Regions from separate parts of the Homo sapiens genome. Here region 1 is linked to region 2. Evidence: fine-mapped expression QTL. Tissue or cell type: whole blood. Region 2 holds a variant in brackets; the other region holds the start of a gene. All regions are shown on one strand. Distances are from middle to middle.

Region 1 (8,116 bases), 330 kb after region 2:
GGTGCGTTTTGCTTCCGTGCTTGCACCTATTTTTATGAGTCTGGCCTGTCTGTGCCTAATGGTCAGGTCAGGGCTACTCAGTAAAACCAAACATCCCTGCCCTCCACACACTAAAACATACTCTCGGGGAGTGGTAAGAACAAAATATATCCAAGATGAGGGTGAGTCTTCCATAACTCCTCGAGTGACTAGAGCTTCTATTTTGGCATAAGCTACTTATCTTTTAAATATGATAACCATACTAAGCTTTTCTAAAAGCCTATCACTCCAAGGAGCCTCAAAAATTCTGTGTTGCAGATGGGGTTATGGGGGAAGAAGCATGGATACAACTCACTTTACTTAAACTTATGGAATTGGACTTATATGTTGGTATCAGCGTTTTATAATAATTTCCCTTATTCAGCCATGTATCCTGCAGAAATATATAATAATCATTTCTATACATTAATCCAAATACTATAGCCCACAAACCATTTTCCAGAACTAAGCTATTAAAAAAAAAAAACAAAAAAAAAACACCTTCATCTCCTTATGAAATGAAGCAACCAACATTGGTACCTAGTTGCCACTAGGCCATTTTATGACCTCTGACACCAAATGTTGAAAGGCACAAGGTCTAACTAAAATATAAAGAGAAAAGGAAAGGTTTTAAATGACTAGACCTCATCTTCAATGTTAAGAATAGAACATGAGGCCTATCCTTAGTTGCCAATCACCAACGGCTAAACTACTGCTAATCTGGGAAAGAAGCAATTTTAAAAAGTCCTTTCCTACAGTCTAGTCTTCCCAAATGGGTAGGAAAGTTAATCTAAGATAGGGAGAAATTTATACGGTTCTGCAGCCCAGATCAGATACAGTGTTCTGACATCCACCTCCTGAAACACATGGATTTCACCCGAGCCCACACCGACCACAGCATCCAATATTTGCAAGTAATGCAAAATGGAACCCTCCAAAACATTTTTGGACCTCTGCCAGGAAAGCAGCTGATGGTCCTCTGAGAATTTCTGTTATAATCATATTTAAAAGGCAAAAACCAATGCCAAAACAATCATGAGCGTCCCGGGGATCTCCTATGCTCCATGACTTAGATTTTACTCCGTGTTGTGCGTTGTATTGACCTCCCACACCTGCCCTATAATGAAAACTATGTTAAGCCACATGGCTTAAGGCCAGCCAACTCCATAAGATATGCAACATAACATTCAAACAATGTGGAGTCCTTGGGAGACGCAGCAAAAAAGACAAACTAAAGTACGGAACAGAGGTAGTATCTAAGAGGAGGTATATGAAATTGATGACAACCAAGCAGGGAGAACTAAAACATCCTTGAAAAACAATTATAAATCACAGTCTAGTATACAGATTCCCTATACAGAATTGGGGAAAAGAATTTCAAGAAAATGCCCAATACCCTCTCTCCACCACTCCACCTTTCAGCACCTCTATACCACCCTCATCACTTACTCAACATTTAGTCCTAGTGAAGACCGCTCACTGGATTAGCAGGATCAAGAAGACATGCACAGAACATTCCATTCTGAGAACAACATCTTTAAATTATTTAGGCTTGTTTACCACCCTTCCCTATAGAGTAAAAGCATGAAATGTTGCCAGCACTTTCACAATATACACCAGTTAGCACCATAGCAACCCAATCTTCTGCCCACCAAAAGATTAACACATAAGCAGAAAACAGGAAATTCAACAAAAATTAAAGTTTGACCTTAGACTCCCTCAACAGTTAAATGTCTTAAGTAGTAGCAGTGTCTTTACATCACACCCGCTTCATGCTACCCTTACAGCTTCCTGGCATAAGCAAGTTCTTGGGATTATACAAACTGCTGCTTCTGTTTGCAGCCCAGATTTCTAGAAATGAAACCCTGGAATTGAGGGAGAAACAAAAACAAATGTTCGCAGAAAGAGGCAGGAAGAAGCATTGTCTATATAATCCTAGTTTAAGTGAAACAATCACCATTAGCTCCATCAAGCACTTTTTTTTTTTTTCCAATAAAACCACTGCAGATCTAAAATACTCTCTTGGTTTAAACCACACAAAAAGCAATTTAATAGGCACAATCCTACAGGTTTTCTGAGAGAAATAAGGAAGAGATCAAGTGTAAGCTACGTAAAATTCACGTTTTGCACCTTATAAAGCAAACTTCAATGTTGTTAAATAACCAGTAGAAAATATCTACAAAAATCAAACTAAACACCTGTTCTTATAAGCAGCAGTCCTCTATTTTCTCTCTAAACCATATATTCCCAACTCAGACCCTCTCTGTGACCCACTGTTCCCAAAGCATAGAGTCTGAAGAAGAAATATAAAACATTTCGGACATTCGTTCACAAAACCAAATTAGACCTTTCCACAAAGTACAGGAGATAAAACAGAAACACTTCCATTTTATCTAATTTATGGCAAATAGTTCAAGGAATGCCTATTTGTTAAGCTGAATCAAACCCCACTGCTACCTTTAACCCAAAACTATTTCTAGTTGAAGATCCAAGAGACCTAAGCAAATACTTTCTTTTCACATTATTCTCAACATGAAGAAATCCGACCCCCTTCCTACAACATCATAGGAGGCCCCTCTGGCCAACTTTCGTTGTTATTGTTGTTGTTTTGTTTGCTTTTTTTTTGAGACTAGCCTCCAACCAATTCCAGAAGAGGAGACAAACCTCAAACAAATTTAACCCTTGAGATCCATCCCTCAACTGTATCATATAATCTACGCTTCACGGCAGTAATGTTTTAAGCAGACACTTGATTTCTTAATCACTGAAATGTAAGCACCAGCCCTCACAAATCATCGCCACAGAGATTCCTCTTGGCATCCACAGAGGGTGCTGGGACTGCAATTCACTCAAGAACCCTTTACTCACCAACATCACACTCGACATTAAAAACTCACCGTCTCCGAAGAAAAAATGTCACCTTCTGCACAAGGACACCTGCCTGTTCAACACCTCTACAAGAAACGAGGAGGGCCAAGCATGAGAGGCTAACAGATCCTCCAGCTTAAAGTTTTCCTCCCCATGAAACTCTCCGGACACAACACCGTGGCCTGTCCTTGTCACACACACACAGGCTGTATTGTCAACCCCTCCGTCTCCCTCTAACGTCGTCAGACTGGGCAGTGTCTACCCATGGGGGTAACTGCTTTTAAATAAAATAAAAAAGCAGCCACCACAGCTGGGTAGTAAGGACTGGAGACCCTGGGTGTCCGATTTTTTCAGGTCTTTTACAAGGGACTAGAGAGCGGCCCGAATTCTGTCACTGCCCACTAACCAACCCCACCTCCCAATCGCCTCGTCAACATGTTTGCTTCCCTTCCTCGGCCCTTTCGGCTGAATCCCAGGAAGGGGACCAAACCCGGGCCGCGACAGGAACATGTCCAGTATCCATCCCATGTCTACCTCCGAAACCCCTTCTCGGGAGAAGGGGCGAGCAAGCGCGCCGGGGTCAAACCCAAGCGCCGTCGAGGGCTGCGCCGACGGAGAGGGACGCCGCGGTCGCCCCCATTTCGCGGTCCCGGCAGGCGAGATTCCGAGAGGTGAGCGGGCCGGCCAAGGTCACGGCGTCGTCGGGGCCGAGGGGCGCCCGCGCCGACTTCCGGCTCCCCCTCTCGGCGGCGGCCCGGGGCGCCCGCTCCCCACGCCGGGCAGGCGGCCGCGCAGCTCGCACCCCCTCCGCGGATGCTCGCCCTCTCCGCGCTAACTAGGGCAACTGGAAAAGAGGCGGAGAGAAGTCGCTGCTGCAGCGATTTCCCCCGGCGGGGAGCAGCCCCCAGCTGGTGCCCGTGACAGCTGCGACCTCCGCCCCCTCCAGCCGCGCCGGGCCGCGAGGGGAACTCGGGGAAGTGGGAGGAGGATGGAGCGGGAGAAAGGAGAGCAGGGGGCGGAGGGGCGCCAGCTGCTCCCCGCCCCCTAGGGCCTCCGCGGCCGCGCGGCTCGTGACAGCTGCACCCACCGGGAGGCTCCGCACCCGCAGCCCGCCACTCACCTGCCGCCGCCGCCTCTGGGCCCCGCTCACCGGCGCCGCACTCGTCCGCGACCGTGGCGGCGGCGCCGCCCCGGCCTCCGCCGCTCCTCGGGCCCGGCGCCGCGGCTCTCCGGCCCCCTCCTCCGGAGCAGGGGTCCCCCCGCAGGGGGATGCAGAGGGAACCTGACGCAGGCTCCGCTCGAGGGAGCAGCAGCGAACAGGCGGCGGAGGCCCTCAAGGCCGCGAGGCAGCCGTCGGAGGACAGAGCTCAGCAAATCGCGTCAGACTCCCGCTCGCCCGGCCTGAAGAACAGGCATTTCAGCCGCTCTCCGCGGCCGCCATGTTCTCCTCCTCGGCCGCCACCGCCGCCGCCGCCACCGCCCCCCGCTCGCGGCACCGCCCCCTTCGCGCCCCGCCCCGCCCCGCCCGTTCCCGGCCGCCCGCCTGCCCGCCCGCCGCACTTCCCCTGCCGGCTCCGGCCGCCCGGGCCGCCGCGACCCGGTGCCCGCGAGCTCCGACAGTGCGCCCGGGACAGCGCGCCCCCAGCCCGCCGGGCCTGCCGGGCCCGCCGAGCGAGGAACCGCCCCGCGCCCTCTGCCGGCCCGCCCCAGCCGGCGTCCTAACGAAGTGTGGGAAAGGAGGCCCGAACTCTTCCCCGCCCGTCTCAACTCCTCCCCGCCCCTCTCCTGCCCTCCCCTCGGGGCGTTCCTCCCACTGCTGCCGGGAAGCGGCCTCGAACACCAGGGCGCTCGCAGCTAGGCCGCCGGGCCTGCCGCCTCCCGCTGTTCTTTATCTTTCTGGGAAGGTGTCGGAGCGGCGAGAGGCCCTGCGGACGGGGCGGAGTCGGCTCCGGGCCTGTCCCTCCACTCGGGCGTTCTGTTACTTTGAGCGAGACATATCCCGCGGGCCTCGTTTTTTATTCTGTAAAATTGGGAGGTGGTTGCCTAGATGATTTCACAGGCTATTAGACAAGAGAAAAGGAAGATCGTCTGCCCCCTTCGTTTTACAGATGAAAAGATCTGCCTGACCCGTTCTGGCTCTGCAATTCCATGAATTATCTAAAATGTCTGTCATTCACAGATCTTTCCCCTCAAGGGGCCCACACCTTTCTTCTTATCTCCCTTTTCTTTTTTTTTTTTTTTTAACTTCTCTAATAGAAGTGCTACTTCCAAAAGTAGAGTGTTCTTGTCACCAGAGGAATCGAACAGCGGCTGAACAGCCTCTCTGAGCTGCGATGGCCTTATCTGGACCGCATCCCGCATTCCAAAGGCTGGCAATGCAATATATACCTATGTCTCTCCCTGGGTTGTCCTAAGCATGAATGAGTCACTCGCCGTGGAAGTGCCTTGTAAAGCATACATCTGTCCATTCCTTTCTTTTATTCTTACCCCATTTCGCACTCTTACCCTTCCTCAATCCTGTCCTGCTGCTGCTGTCTCCCGGCGTTTCCTGCTGTTTCGCTTCCTGTGTGTTCTCCCCTAAATCAATCTCTGTAAATCCTTAAGCCCTTCCCACCCTTCTCCCAACTGGGGAACCTGACAGCCTTGAAAACACCAATCTCCGTGGCAGCTCTCTGAGTCGACGGGCAGCTTCTTTCACAGGCAGGTACTACTGTATGCTTTCACCATCCTCTTCCTATCCTTGTCACGCTCATAAAGTAATCGCTAGACCACACCCCCACATGCATTCATATATTCATTCATTTATATATTCATTCCCCTGATTCTTATCGGAGACCTACTACTGGGGCCCTAGGTGCATCTCCTGAGCTCTGGCTTAGCAGTACCTCTAGCCACCCGCAGAGTCCCTATCCCCAATAATAGCTGAAAATACCCGGGCACTCATGAGTTTCGTCCCCTAATGTAGGGCCTACTTCCCAATCTAGTCCAATGCAGACTGTGTGAAAGTGCCTTGTTCTAGCCTCTGGTGCCAACAAATGAGCCACTTGTGCAAGGTACTCCTGTCTCCACTAGACTCTAGTAAGTGCTGAAGGCCAAATCTAGTGGCCACTTCAGTCCTACTGTCGTGTGGCCTTTCTACAGCACGTGATACTGCTAACTCCTCCTTTTTGAAACTCTCCTCCCTTGTCTTCAATATGAGTCTCTCTACCTGATTTCTGAACTTGCCTTCGTTTGCACTTTTCTTGGGCTGCTCCTTTTTTACGGGGCCATAAAAAATGTTGGTATCCTCAAGGTTTTATTTTTTTCCTTCCTTTCCTCTGGCTTCGGTTGACTGTTTATTTCCACAGCTTCAACTGTTAACAAAACAACTCCTGAATTTCCTTCTTCCAATCTCCCACTCTGCAGCCCGGGGTCGTAATTAACTTTAAAATATCCTCAAGACACACAGTGCTAAGATTTTGTTGAATGACAAATTATTTAGGTGTTAATTTATATTGCCATAACCATCCATGTATGCTAAAGAGAGAGTTCTTTTCTAGAATGGTACTGTTTCTTTTTTGTTGTTGTTGAAACAGAGTCTCGCTCTTGTCGCCCAGGCTGGAGTGCAGTGGCGCGATCTCAGCTCACTGCAGCCTCTGCCTCCTGGGTTCAAGTGATTCTCCTGCCTCAGCCTCCCGAGTAGCTGGGATTACAGGCACCCGCCACCACGCCCGGCTAATTTTTTGTATTTTTAGTAGAGACAGGGTTTCGCCGTGTTGGCCAGGCTGGTCTTGAACTCCTGACCTCAGGTTATCCACCAGCCTCGGCCTCCCAAAGTGCTGGGATTACAGTCATGAGCCACTGCGCCTGGTAATGTTTCTTAAATAATAACTCTTTGACTTTTTTCTCCTTCCTCTACAAGTCATAATCACTTGTCAAAGCAGTTATAACACCCTTTTATGTCTCCAATTGGTAATCTTTTCTCTGGTCATACTCAACTTCTCTCAGACTCCATCTACTTTTACTAAACAGGCCCATTTTACTAATCCACCCGAGCAACCCTAAATATAGGGCCAAAAGATTCATTAGATTTACTTCGTGACTGTACAAGTAGCCTCTCTAAAATCCATTTACCTTAGCTATTTAAAATTTATTTACTCCCAAAATACAATGCCAATCAACAAGGAAGACTAACTCCAATTAAATGAAAATGCTTTGAAGATATTTATAAATAAAAATGTAAGACAACATTTAACTCTTATAGCCCAGATAGAACTGGTTTTAGTCCAAACCCTATTGTTTCCATAAATTAATATAATCCTTTGGTGGACTAGAAACAGCCTAGTTCTACGGGCAAAATCTAGAACATACCTGTTGGATTTTCTCCAGAGCATAATAGATTTCCAGTTCTATAAAATATATGGCTAGTGTGCATGAAATTACTCCAGTTACTGAGGCAAGAATTGATTTAACTTTGACATTCTTTTTTTCAAATAGTTTTTTGTTTTATAATAATTGATACAGACTCACAAAATATTCAGTCAATAAAGAACAGCACAAAAAGTTTAAAAATAAACTTTTTCAAGCCAGAGAGAAACATAGTAAACATGTTTCCACACCTTTCTCTATATATATTTGCACATATAAATACACTATATGTAGTCAATTTTACATAAAAATAAAATCACGCCTGTAATCCCAGCACTTTGGGAGGCCGAGACAGGCGAATCACCTGAGGTCAGGAGTTCAAGACCAGCCTGGCCAACATTGTGAAACTCTGTCTCTACTCAGTGTGGTGGTGGGTGCCTGTAATCCCAGCTACTCAGGAGGCTGAGGCAGGAGAATCATTTGAACCCAGGAGGCAGAAGCTGCAGTGAGCCAAGATCGCCTCACTGCACTCCAGCCTGGGCAACAGAGTGAGACTCCATCTCAAAAAAATAAAATAAATAAAATAAAATCACATGATAAATGCTCATCAGTAATCTGGTGCCTTTTACTGTACAATGTATTTTCATCCTAATAGTTAAATACTCTTGCATTGTGTATCTGTTTAGCCATTTAATTCCTTACTAAAAATGTTTACATTGTCTGTATTTTTGTTTGTATATTTTTGTAAATCATGCTGTAATTCTAATGCATGCCTCCGTGCAGTTTAGAAATTATTTTCTTTAAATTTCTAGAAGATTAATTGTTGGCTCAAAGGGTACATGTTAATTTTTTTACTACATTATTTACCAAACTGGCCTCCAGA
Region 2 (8,054 bases):
CCTTCACCCAGCCCCACACGTGAGCCTGGTCAGGCCACCGCCTTCTCTATTCAGGCTCCTTCCTCAGTCACACAGGAAGACAGTTCCTCACCTCTTCCGTCCGACCCCCTCCAGGATGGTGAAGGAAGCATGGGAGTGAAGGTGGGAGGGGATAGAGTGAAGGCACAAACATCTTGAATCAAATCAATATCCCCTAGGCCAGGGGCTCATGGCCCCCGCACTCCCCGTGGCGCTGAGGGACATTAACACAACTGACCACAGAGCCAGAAGAGAAAGAGAAGGGAGCTGATGGACTTTCTGTTGGGTTAAAAGGAAAAGAGAAGGCCGGTGCAGTGGCTCATTTTGGGAGGCTGAGGGTGGAGGATCACTTGAGTCCAGGAGTCTGAGACCAGCCTGGGCAATATGGTGAAACCCTGTCTCTACTAAAAAATACAAAAATTAGCCAGGCATGGTGGCCCGCACCTGTAATCCCAGCTACTTGAGAGGCTGAGGCAGGAGGATTGCTTGAATCTAGGAGGTTGAGGCTGTAGTAAGCTGAGATCACACCACTGCACTCCAGCCTGGGTGACAAAGTGAGACACCCCCCCCGCACCCCCCCCCCCCCCGCCACAACCACCGCACTCAACCGGACAAAAAAGGAAAAGAGAAGGAAGAGAGGGAAGAGAAAGATCCTCTGTACTTAGGGCCCAATGTTAGTTCAAGTGCCCCCTACTGGCTTTCCAGGGAAGTACAGCCTTCCCAAGCCACTTCTTACCCAAATGGCGCCTGCTAGAAAGGGGGACTCCACCCTGAGTTGGGAGATCCCCACTGCTGCCACCTCCACGAGACAGACCTGCAGCTGAAATTAGGTCCCAAGAGGCCCCCTACACACGGAAGGCCTCCTGGATCTCTGCTGTAATTACGGAGGCTGGGAACCGCACCACTATTGGGTGGCCTTTTGATGAGGTGCAATCTTTGCAGGGTCTTACTTCCCTTGCCATTTAGCCATCTTCCTTCCAGCCTTTCCAAGGGGAGTTCCTCCATTCACGTTCCTGTTTTTCTTCTTTTTTTGAGACTGAGTCTCACTCTTTTGCCCAGGCTGGAGTGCAGTGGTGCGATCTCGGCTCACTGCAACCTCTGCCTCCTGGGTTCAAGTTGATTCTCCTGCCTCAGCCTCCCGAGTAGCTGGGATTACAGGTGCCCGCCACCATGCCCGGCTAATTTTTGTATTTTTAGTAGAGACAGGGTTTCACCATGTTGGTCAGGCTGGTCTCGAACTCCTGACCTCAGGTGATCCGCCTGCCTCGGCCTCCCAAAGTGCTGGGATTACAGGCATGAACCGCCACGCCTGGCCATTCCTGTTTTTCATCCTTCTATCCAGTGGCCAGCTTAGAGCACATGCCTCGCCTTGTCTGTGTCTGTAGGTAGAAAAACTGGCACGGACACTTTTCTTGTGGAAGATTGAGGTCCACGACCAGAAGGAACGTGTCTATGAGATGCGACGCTGGAACGAGGCCTTGGTCACCAACATGTTGCCTGAGCACGTGGCACGCCATTTCCTGGGGTCCAAGAAGAGAGATGAGGTGAGGGGTGTGGTCTCAGCCCGGAACCATGAGGCCATTTGTCTCCATCTGTTCTTTCTTTCAGGCAGCCCCCGCTGGGCCCAGGCCTTCTCAGGGACAGGGGACTGGGGCCTAGGTAGGGCTGAACCTAAACAGCAAACACAAATAAGCAAAAGAGGAATTTCTCCGGCCTCTTATAAAGTGCACTGCTGTAGGCATCGTGATGTGGGCCGTACAGCTCTGAGGCCATGTGTCAGAAGACAAGACTTTGGCTAGAGCCCACCTTTCTGTTGCCTGTGAACTTCTCCAAACAGAGTGGTTCCCAGCTCTACGGTACCCTCGTCTTCACAGCTGGGGCTGTTAGAGGAACTAGAGAAGCTGTTTTAAAATTTATTCAAAGTAGTGGCCGGGCACAGTGGCTCATGCCTGTAATCCCGGCACTTTGGGAGGCCGAGGCGGGTGGATCATCTGAGGTCAGGAGTTTGAGACCAGCCTGGGCAACAAATAGTGAAACCCTGTCTCTACTAAAAAATACAAAAATTAACTGGACGCGGTGGTGCACACCTGTCGTCCCAGCTACTCGGGAAACTGAGACAGGAGACTCACTTGAACCCGGGAGGTGGAGGTTGCAGTGAGCTGAGATTGTGCCACTCAACTCCAGCCTGGGTGACACAGCAAGACTCCATCTCTCAAAAAAAAAAAAAAAAAGTAGCGATGAGCTATTTTTAAATTATTCAGAGTTGGAATAATCTACAGCCGGGCATGGTGACATGTGTCTGTGGTCCCAGATACCTGGTGTTCAAGGCCGCAGTGTGCTTCGATCATACCTAATTGTGCTTGTTTACTGCCACTGCACTCCAGCCTGGGAAACACAGCAAGACCCACTCTTAAAAAAAAAAAAAAAAATGCTGGAATAATCTGACTGATGTGTGAGTCCAAAAAGCTGAGTGCACATGTCATGCATGGAAGATAGATGCATTTCTCCAACACATCATCCAGTCAGTCGGACATGCTTTGAGCACGTTGTCCGCACCTCTTTTTAGGAGCTGTATAGCCAGACGTATGATGAGATTGGAGTCATGTTTGCCTCCCTGCCCAACTTTGCTGACTTCTACACAGAGGAGAGCATCAACAATGGTGGTATTGAGTGTCTGCGTTTCCTCAATGAAATCATCTCAGATTTTGACTCTGTGAGTGCCCATCCCACCCTGCACTCTGGCCATGAAGCCGGCCCATTCCACATCACATCCTACAATAGGCTGCAGAGGCCAGAGAAACTGGCTTCATTTTCCCAGATAAGCCCCTTCCGCAATACATGGACTTCTGCAGCCACCTGGAACTGCTGGGCTGGGGAAGGGGAGGTGAGGTGGGAGCCCGGGAAATCACCCACAGGGTCACAGGATAAGGATAAGGACTGGCCAAGCAACATCTCGAGACCTCTCTGTCCTGGGACTGTCTCCTCAAATTCAGAGCCGGTCAGCATTGACTGGGTGACCTGTATACCAGGGAGAATGCTTTTACACACGCGCGGAGCCCCCCTAGGAGACTGCCGATTTTATGTCAGTGTTGAGGTTGTGGAAACAGGCCCAGAAAGTTAGGAAGTTCTCCCAGGATCATGTGGCAGATAAGCGGTAGACTAAGTAACAACTTTGATAGGAAAGTGTCTCTTGGGTTTAGTGGGGTCCTTGTAAACAGGTACATCTGTCACTGGGTTGGGTCATTCCTCTCCCTTGACTGCTGACAATTCTTTCCTGAATCCTGGCCTCAGCTCCTGGACAATCCCAAGTTCCGGGTGATCACCAAGATCAAAACCATTGGCAGCACGTATATGGCGGCTTCAGGAGTCACCCCCGATGTCAACACCAATGGCTTTGCCAGCTCCAACAAGGTAGCTAACCCCAGTAGCCAGAGAGATGAGGCTCTGCCCCCAAGGCAAGAGATTGGCAGCCCAGACCTAGCATGGGGGAAATAAGAACTGCTGTGCAAAGTGGTCCCAGACACACACCACCAGCACCACGTAAATATAAATAAGAAATAGGGTTTATTGAGAAAGTTCGGCAAGCAGAGAAACA[G/A]AACAGACACACAACCCCCTGCTGTTCACAGCTCAGGCCTAAGATGGTTGTGTTCTGTGGCCAGGCCCCCTAAGGCTCTGTGCTTTCATAGGAACTGGAGAGCAATTGTCAACAAGGGAAACTGAAAGCATGGCCTTCAGAACTCTGGCTGACGGCAGCCTGTTCTTTTGTTAAGCTAATTTAGACCTTTGTTCAGCTACCAGGAGAGAAAATTAGGTGTAGGAGCCCTGGTCCCAAGCTCTGGTCTTAAAACACCATCATCCTGCTTTACCTCTACAACCATCCCACGGCCCTATTATATGGATGAGGTTAAAGAAACACGTCCAAGGCGGGTCATCCCCCTCCAGTGCTTATCACCTAGTTGAGGGATCCAAACAAGGACAACCTGACAAAACCTAAGGACCAGGACCAGGCCCAGCCAAGGTGAAGGGGTCCGCCTCGTGGTCAGACTCACAGGTCCGTCTCCTCTGCTCAATTGCCCAGTCTTTGCCTAGACCTGCTACGTGAACTTTGTCACAGTGGCAAGTCAGAGCTAGCGTGGCTGCGACTCCTTTGTGGGAGGAAAAGTAAGGCCTTGAACATCTAGGTGTAGGGAATCCACCCCCAGAACACTGCCAGGGAAGGCAGCAGAGCAGGCTGCTGCAGTGAGCGGCCCCTGACACTTTCTCCACGGTCCCCTGGCACAGGAAGACAAGTCCGAGAGAGAGCGCTGGCAGCACCTGGCTGACCTGGCCGACTTCGCGCTGGCCATGAAGGATACGCTCACCAACATCAACAACCAGTCCTTCAATAACTTCATGCTGCGCATAGGTGAGCACCCCCAGCTGGCCTGCCCCGCAGCAGGCTCCCTTCCCATGCAGGGGCCTGGCCCACCACCAGGAGAGACATGAGGCTCAGGACAACTGAGGCAATTCGGGTGGGGAGGTTCACGCACTCACAGGGCAAGGAGACCTGAAAGACCTTTAGTCCAGACGACTCTAGATGACTAAACCAAAAACCCAGCTGATGTGATGATCCGACTATACTGTGCCTACTGTTACAATAGAAGCTTGGCCTGCCTGGCTGAGAAGTGAGTTTGTGATCCATTTCCAGAGGGGTTGCTGTGCCTGCTGAGGACATGGCTTCCCAGACAGGCCTGCTCTTTGAAAGGAGTTAAGATCACCTGCTGCTTCTACTGAGGGGGTATCATTCCTGAGTGAGGTCCCAGGAGACTTGAAATACCAGCTGTGTTAGAAGCTGGCCACTACCATGCCGAGTAAATCTGCATATGGGGGGGGGGTGGCGGCTGACACCTAACAAGCACACGGATAAACAGGAGATGTGATTTCCACCCTCCAATAGCATACAGCCAAGTTGAATGAGGACAATGATGTGTTACATTAGGAGCTTTGTGGTACAGGTCTGGAGAGGAGATGGCTTCTGAGGCCCATAACAAGGTGTGGCCTGTGGCTGTGCTGAACTTTATGCCTCTACCCTAGGCATGAACAAAGGCGGGGTTCTGGCTGGGGTCATCGGAGCCCGGAAACCACACTACGACATCTGGGGCAATACAGTCAATGTAGCCAGCAGGATGGAGTCCACGGGGGTCATGGGCAACATTCAGGTATGTCCAGTGGCACAGCTGGCACGTGCTCAGACTCGGCATGAGAACAAAACCGGAACAGTGCTTTCCCACGTGCCCCTGCCTCCCACCCTGGCCCTGAACAGTAAGTCCAGAGGCAGAGACGTGGGGCAAGTGGAAAAGAATCTCTGCAATAGCTAGCCTCAGCACAGGAAGAAACACTTCCACCCATCCACAAAATCTGGGCTGAAGTTCTAGATGCATATGGCCTACCTTTGGGTATGAACCTTCTAATACCTTGTGATCTGTCTCAGTGGCGTCTGGCAGAAAAGCTCCACGAAAGGGGCAAAGGGACAGAAGAGCAGGCAGTGGCAGTTTCCAGGTAACAGTGCTGCCACCCAGGTGACCATGGCCATCCTAGGAGAGAAGTCTCTGGATGAGAGGAGGCCCCCAGCCAGTCACTCCAGGGTTCTCCTTCCCACCCGCTGCTCGCCACGGGTGGAAGGGCTTGGCCCTGGGAGGTTTGGGGAGTGTCCCGTACTGCTTGGGACCCATGGATCAGTGCTCGGCTCCAACCACCCAAAGCCCCCACCCGCCCTCAGTCTAGGCTCCCCCCGTAACGCCACGTTCTTGCTCCCCCTCCCTCTCCAGGTGGTAGAAGAAACCCAAGTCATCCTCCGAGAGTACGGCTTCCGCTTTGTGAGGCGAGGCCCCATCTTTGTGAAGGGGAAGGGGGAGCTGCTGACCTTCTTCTTGAAGGGGCGGGATAAGCTAGCCACCTTCCCCAATGGCCCCTCTGTCACACTGCCCCACCAGGTGGTGGACAACTCCTGAATGGCCTCGAGCCTGCAACAGTCCAAACCGGAAGGGAGAATTTATTTTTTGAAACTGAAGGAAGTCCCGACCTTCCTGGATTGAAGTGCACACTCATGGACTTTAGGTTTAGAAACCTCCTCAGCCTTCATTTGTTCGTGGATGTGTGAGCTCTGAGGGTGGCCCTGCTATTCCTGTGTGTGCCTGTAGTGTCCCCAGCATAGGGGTCTTAGGCATAGGGCTGAACAGTCCTTCCAGAGCCCTCGTTCCAATCCCTGCCGTCCTTGCCCCTGAGGGGCCCTGACCACTGTGAGCAGGAGGGTGGCAGAGCTGGGACAAAGCTGCCTTTGCCGCTGGGCTTTCCGGGACTGTGGAGGGAGCACAGGCGGGGAAGCTCCACTTCAGACAGGGCTTGGTGGGGCAGGACATGGCTCCCATTTTGAAGGGAGGTCTCCATGTGGTCCGAGTGAGGTGAGACGGCCCTCGTCCTGGTGTTCCTGATCATCTTGAAAGGTTCTTCTGGAACTCCTGTCCCCTTAGTCATGAGAACAGAAAGTGCAATATTTCCTTTCACCTGGCAGGGGAGGGGGGATTTATTTCTGAAAGAAAAATATATAAACAGATCTTCTACATTTATATTTTTAATCTTCTGTTAAATACACTTTCCGATATTGCCTTGCCTTTTGAGCTCTTGCTACAGTCGCCTTTGCTACTGCTTTAAGAGAATTTACAGGTATTGATAAAGAACAAGACTGTTTTATTAAAAGCTTTATTCAACTTGAAAGTGATTGTGGAAATTCTGTTAATATCACTTATCTGAGGAGTGCTGGTACTTTGCTGACTCATGCCACTGGTCCCCACCACAGGCCTGGAAGGCAAGAGCTTGAAGGTCTCATCATAGCTCACTGTACCCCGGAACGCCTGCTGCCTGGCCCTGTCTCTTTTATTCTTAAACTTTCTTCTAAAGGGTACTCCAAGCTGGCTTTAATCCCCTGCACTGTTCCTGGAGCTCTCCCACACGGAGGTTACTTCGTGGCCATTGCAGGGTTAAGTCTGAACGTGGCCTTGGGCCAGTCATGACTCCTATCTGTGCCTGGGCAAGGGAGGGCTACAGGAGAACCTGGTCAGCCAGACACAGGTTTTCATATCTGTGAGTGACCCACACGCCAAGGAACCAGAGGTGCCAGCAGGTCAGAGGCCCGTGGTTACGGCAAATCAGGACACTAACCGGAGAGCCTGCAGGAGAGGGAAGACCCGGGGGGCGCCTGAGTCCCCCTGAGTTAATGGGCAGATTTCTAACTAACTAACTGTGCTTTTTCAGAGGGGACTTCCTAGTACATTCACAGCTCTACTAAACTTTTAGGAAACAAAATATGAGACACACTGAACTCTGATTATTTTATCCTACTGCTTTCTCACACCATATTTATAAAGCAGTGGCCTAGAATACACTGCGCCTAACCAAACAAACACTGAAGAACTTCCTTTTCAAAAGTTTCAAACAGGAAAATGAGGAAAAATTACTTAAAGCTTTCATAAAAGCTAAAAATACTTTCCTTTTAAAAAAAAAAAAATATTGGGTCTTCCTTATTATCTTCATTAGTGAATGTGGGTTATTTTTCCATTTATTTAGATCAGTGTTTCTCAACAGAATCAAGCTATTGCAGTTTGAGTGGAGTGCTACATTTCTGTGAGAGCCCTTTCTGAAAATTTTAGGATTTTTGGCATCTCTATTCCTGGCATTAAATTAGTAGCAGTTACTGTGACAACTTAATTGCCTGGTCTTTCCCAGAGTTAATGCCCTCAATAATTTGATATTTTTCCATAAGTACTTCTTGAGTGATACACCTTTTTCAAAAAATGGCTTTTATTGCCCCACAAATGATTTTCAACTAAAATGTATGATCAACTAATACCTTTAAAAAACATCTTGAGCATTTTAAGAAGGGACCAGGTGATCATGGGAATTGTTCAAAAATGCCAGTGTCTATACTCAAACCTGCTCTTCCATCCAGATGAACAGGTAGGTGTCTGTTTTCATCAGAAGGGTGATGTACCCTTCATCAG

Evidence for each region. PIP is the estimated chance that this variant, and not a neighbour inherited with it, causes the effect.
Region 1: NCOA1 starts here. The variant in region 2 is fine-mapped to the expression of NCOA1 in whole blood (INTERVAL, PIP 0.99).

Annotation. Positions count from the first base shown.
Region 1 is chr2:24,487,493-24,495,608 of GRCh38, reverse strand. NCOA1 (nuclear receptor coactivator 1) reads right to left here and starts at 4,355. Exons shown (of 23, transcript NM_003743.5): 1 at 4,007-4,355. RefSeq lists silencers at 3,583-4,072, 4,227-4,385, 4,363-4,702.
Region 2 is chr2:24,817,886-24,825,939 of GRCh38, reverse strand. CENPO (centromere protein O) reads right to left here. Exons shown (of 8, transcript NM_001322101.2): 8 at 3,564-6,586. It overlaps ADCY3 (adenylate cyclase 3), which reads left to right. Exons shown (of 22, transcript NM_004036.5): 17 at 1,404-1,562; 18 at 2,585-2,731; 19 at 3,310-3,429; 20 at 4,300-4,423; 21 at 5,092-5,216; 22 at 5,826-6,771. The coding sequence ends at 6,008. Among named protein-coding and RNA genes, the nearest start is that of CENPO, 28 kb to the right of the region's middle. RefSeq lists enhancers at 1-474, 2,886-3,430, 3,431-3,974. The variant G/A (reference allele first, on the strand shown) is at 3,614.